2 separate regions of the Homo sapiens genome follow, and region 1 is linked to region 2. A link means that fine-mapping ties the variant in region 2 to the expression of a gene that starts in the linked region. Tissue or cell type: monocytes after LPS. Region 2 holds a variant in brackets; the other region holds the start of a gene. All regions are shown on one strand. Distances are from middle to middle.

The links. PIP is the estimated chance that this variant, and not a neighbour inherited with it, causes the effect.
Region 1: it holds the start of CLDND1, and the variant in region 2 is fine-mapped to the expression of CLDND1 in monocytes after LPS (Kim-Hellmuth 2017, PIP 0.94).

Annotation. Positions count from the first base shown.
Region 1 is chr3:98,521,616-98,524,115 of GRCh38, forward strand. CLDND1 (claudin domain containing 1) reads right to left here and starts at 1,287. Exons shown (of 5, transcript NM_001040181.2): 1 at 1,234-1,287. CLDND1-AS1 (CLDND1 antisense RNA 1) reads left to right here and starts at 955. Exons shown (of 2, transcript NR_198998.1): 1 at 955-1,218. RefSeq lists silencers at 734-843, 894-1,533.
Region 2 is chr3:98,605,558-98,608,325 of GRCh38, forward strand. No RefSeq gene overlaps it. Among named protein-coding and RNA genes, the nearest start is that of CPOX, 13 kb to the left of the region's middle. The variant G/GGC (reference allele first, on the strand shown) is at 1,123.

The DNA.
Region 1 (2,500 bases), 84 kb before region 2:
TCATTCTCATAAAAGTACTTATTGAATGCTCACATACCCAGGATGCTACGGAGACAGAGGTCTTGTTCTCTAGTCTATCACCTGCATACTAAAACAGACAACACTGAAATGGACATACACATTACAGATACAAACAATAGACATGCCCATGGTCAGCAGTGTACCGTGCACACATTTTAAATTACAGACTGAATTTTTGCACGAGCTGCAGAGGATTAAGTGTTCTGGGTTTGAGTGTTAAAAAGGCACAGGAAAAAGAAGCAGTGGAAATTGGCTTCTCCCAGTTTCCTCTGAAGAGGGAAGCCTCCTAAAACAAAGGTAAGAGTCAGGAGCCATACAGAAAACAGAGTTGAAGATGTTTGTTAACCCCGAGGGAAAGGTTGTTCTAGGTGTATAAAATAGCAAAGAGAACAATAACATGTAATAATGCTAGATAGCAATCTCTCCCTAATCCATTAAAGCTAAGCCAAGCTTCTTTACGCTGCCAAATGCTTCACTCCTATCTACTCTCCCGATTCCTTATACTTCTGAACCTCCTCAACAGAAATCTTGCTCTCTCCCTAAATCCTCAGTGCAACATACGTCCGCAAAAACTAAATGATCCCTCCTCAGCCAGACAGAAAACTCTCAACATATCAACACTCCCAAGGCGTGGACAGGGCTCAACGGCAGTAGTAAATGGCCGCGGTAAAATGACTCAAGGCAGATCGCGCTGAGTCAAATACTACACGGCAAGTATACACCGTGACCGCACCAAACACCTTACAAAGGTTCATGAAAACAGACTCGCAAACTGGGGTTGCTGAGTTTGGAAAATGGGAAGTGACTCAGGAAAGATAAGAGCAATGACAACGAAAACTCAAAAAGTTGGATTTGTATTTTGATTTTTTAAAAATCCCCCCTTCATCCTGGTGCTCTCAAATGACCTTAAAGGGTCCCAGCACTGGGAACGGCGGTTCGTCCAAGCCGGACGCCTGCAGCAGCCACCTCCTGGGCCTCACGGCGGGGCCGGAGAAGGCCAGGGCTGGGGCGGGGCAGCCGTGCTCGGCCCCGGGCCAGGGTCCCCCGGTACCCGACCAGGCCCCGCCCTAGAGGGCTCGGCCCTGGGACAAATCCGCCGCTCGGAACCCGCCCAGCCCGACCACGCCCGGGAAGGGGGCCCCTCTTCAAACCGCCGGGAACATGGAACCGCGACGCGACCCCTGCCCGGCGACGCAGGTCCCGCTCACTCACCGCCCATCCTCCTGCTCCGCCAGCTTCACCCTCTAGCTCAGACCACAGCACCCTACTCTCCCCGCGCCTCCTCTGACGCACTTCCCTGCAGAGCCCGCCCCCTCCATAACTCCCGCGCCTCCGCCCGCCCCCACTCCGGGCCGGGCCGCGGCCCGGGGCCGAGGGGCCTTGTGGGAGTTGTAGGAGGGACAGACTGAAAGCTGTCTGAGGCGGCGATAGGCATTCCTGGCGCCGCGCGCGGCGCATTGTGGGAGATGTAGTTCAGCTCCTCAGGGCAAGCCGGTACGCAGAAGGGAAGTCTAGGCTGTTGGATTCTTGCATTTTAGGGAGGAAGGGAGAATGGTCCAGAAAGTAAAGCGGGCCTGTTTCCGGTCATCTCGAGTCAATGACCGTGACTTGTATAACTTAGATCTGACTTTTAGGCCTGTGCTTTCCCTATCACACCACCCTGCCTCTAGATCTAAGTATAAATGAACAAAAATGGGATTCTACTTGTGAAACGTTGACCCATTTTATTTCCCTCTCCCAGAATCCCTCCCATTGGAGCAGAGCATCCTTCTGGTTTTATTGCATAAGTTTAGGCTAAGAAGTATGTGACCTGGCAGACAGTATCCATCAAGAATGTAATGATATTATTTGGGTTTCATAAAATGTGTTTGTAGCTGCCTTCTTTTTATGACAAGTGATACTAGTTTTCTATTGCAGCAATGTTGTTCCTTTTAAATTCTTTTCACTTATTTTAAAAACTATTAAGTTAATAATACTGAGGATACCAGATATGTCAAAAAATGAATAAAAAATTGTGGGTATAGTAGGAAAAAGACTGAAATTTGGGGAACATCACTCAAGCAGATAAGGTCATGGACAGCATTGGAGATTGCAGATGATGTGTGGCACAGGGGCAACAATGATTCTGAACCCTCAGGTTTAACACAGAAATTCATGGACAGGAAGCAGGGACATCTTAACAATAACATGAGTGGAACTATTAACGTGGCCTGGGACCAGCAAATGGTGGATTTCTCAACAGTAACCGACAGAGAAAGCTGACTCAAGGACCAGAGGGGCTCTCAAACCCCCACTCTGTCCCCTAATGCCTTGTAATTTAGCATAGGAGAAAGATGGGAGCTGCAAGTTGATATTAAATTTCTACCACTTTGACAGATTAAAGGCATGATATGTTTCTCTATCTGTACTTACATTTCTTTGACCTGAGTGGGTGAAACTGATATTCATATGCAGCACATAATAAGGTAGTAGCCAAATA
Region 2 (2,768 bases):
AAACTCACTTGGTTCAGGAAATGTCTACCCACGTGACTCTGCTTGCCATTGTAGCAACTTTTATTCTTAATTTACTTTGTTGAACCTCTGTTCCTCACCCATAAGATAGCAATAAGAAAATTTCTCACTGTTTTTGTATGAAAAAAACGAAACAACCTATCTTAGCTGTTTAGCACAGTGCCTGACACTTAGCAATTATCTAAAAACTTTTAGTTTCTCCTCTGATGTGAATCACTGATGACTTATTAATTTGACTCAGTCAATTTTTTTTTTTTTTTGACAGCGTCTCGCTCTGTCGCCCAGGCTGGAGTGCAGTGGCGCAATCTTGGCTCACTGCAACCTCTGCCTCCCAGGTTCAAGAGATTCTCCTGCCTCAGCCTCCCGAGTAGCTGGGACTACAGGCATGTGCCACCACACCCAGCTAATTTTTGTATTTTTAGTAGATACGGAGTTTCACCATGTTGGCCAGGATGGTCTTGATTTCTTGACCTTGTGATACGCCTGCCTCGGCCTCTCACAGTGCTGGAATTACAGGCGTAAGCCACCGCGCCTGGCTGACTCAGTCAAATATTCTATCAAAATAATAAATTTTCTTATTATTCCTATCTTACCGGTGCATAACAGAGGTTCAGCAAAGTAAATTAAGAATAAAAGTTGCTACAGCAGCAAGTGGAATCAGGTGGGTAGACATTTCCTGACCTGTTAAGTTTTGAGTTTAATTTTCAACACAGAGGGGAAACAGAAAAAGTCTGGAACTGGCTAATGTTCCTCCCATGAGTCGTCAGAAAATCGCCATGTTGCTGTCTGTCTAAACTATGGATCTGCAAAGAATTACAAAAAGATCAAATTTCTCTTTATCTTCCCATCTTTTCTTTTAGAATCCACTCTAATTTCTAGGCCCTGTTACTTTTTGTTTCATCCATTCCTCCCTTTTTTCTTTTATTCTGGAATAATAACAACAATGTTAACTGATGATATAAAGAAAGTGGAGACTAAAGTTGATACCCATATTCAACACTGTAGTTTATCTTTAGTTACAAAGCTTTTAGAATTTCTTTTCCTAAAACATTCACATTTCTTTTTCTTTTTCTTTTCTTTTCTTTTTTTTTTTTTTGGGGGGGG[G/GGC]GGACAGGGTGTTACTCTGTTGCACAGGCTGGAGTGCAGTGGTGCAATCTTGGCTTACTGCAACCTCCGCCTCCCAGGTTCAATTGATTCTTCTGCCTCAGCCTCCTGAGTAAGTGGCATTATAGGTGCCCACCACCACACCCAGCTAATTTTGTAGTTTTAGTAGAGATGGTGTTTCTCCATGTTGACCAGGGTGGTCTTGAACTCCTAACCTTAGGAGTTTGCCAGGCTCGGCCTCCCAAAGTGCTGGGATTACAGGTGTGAGCATCGTGCCCAGCCAACATTCACATTTCTAATGCTTCTTTCATCTTTAGGTGGTTAGAAAACATCTTTTATCTTTAGTTAATAAATTCTATAGCTTTGACCAAGGGTAAGTATCTCTGAAGATAAACTTATGGTCAATTCAGATGAGCAAAACTTTACCCATGTTATTCAAGTGGAAATTCTAGAACTGAAAAATTCAATATCTGAAATGAAAAGTTTGAAGACGCACTTAACAACAGATTCAAGATTTCAGAAGTCTGGAGATTGAGGTTCTTGAGATTGAGGACAAATCAATAGAAATTATCTAATCAATATAATAGAGAAGAAAAAAAGATTGAGATAAGAATGGACAGAGCCTCAATGACGTGTGGGACAATATCAAGAGATCTATATATCCTTGTAGTCACAGAGAGAGAGACAGAAATGGGGAAATGGGGCAGAGAAAATATTTGAAGACATGATGGCTCTAATCCCTCCAAATTTGGTGGAAAACATCAGTTTACAAATATAAGAAGCTCAACAAACACCAAGAAGTATAAATACAAAGAAAATCACACTTTGGAATATTATAGTCAACCTCATGACCACCAAAGATAAAGAGAAAAGCTTGGAAGCAACCAAACATGAAGGACACATTCATACAAAAAGAAAAATAAGATGAACAATGGTTGACTTCTGATGGAGGCCAGAAGACAATGGAATGACACACCCAGAGTCCTAAGAGAAAAACAAATCAATCAACCCAGAATTCTATATCCAGTGAAAATATTCCTCAAAAATTAGGGTAAAATGAAGACTTTTTTTCAGATTTAAAAAAGTGGAAGGAATTAGTCACTTTCAGACTATAAAAAATGACTTTTTTTCATAATATTTTTGAAAAAACAACCAAATGATTAAAGCTAAAACAACAAAAATGTGTGACTGATTTCATAACATATGTGTGTATGTATATATATATATACATATATATAATGACAACAATAGCACAAAGGATGAGGGAGGAGGCATACTGGATTATTCTGTTGTAAAGTTCTTAACTGTATATAAAGTAACTGTATATATACAGTATATACTGTATATATACTGTATATATACAGTATATACTGTATATATAACAGATGATTATACTTAGGATAATAGTATTTACTTGAATACAAAGTATATACTGTATATACAAAGTATATACAGTATATACAGCATATACTGTATATATACAGTATGTACAAAGTATATACAGTATATACCTGGTATATATACAAGTTATATACAGTATATACAGCATATACCTGGTATATATACAAGGTATATACAGTATATACAGCATATACCTGGTATATACTTTGTATTCAAGTAAATACTATTATCCTATATTATATACTGTA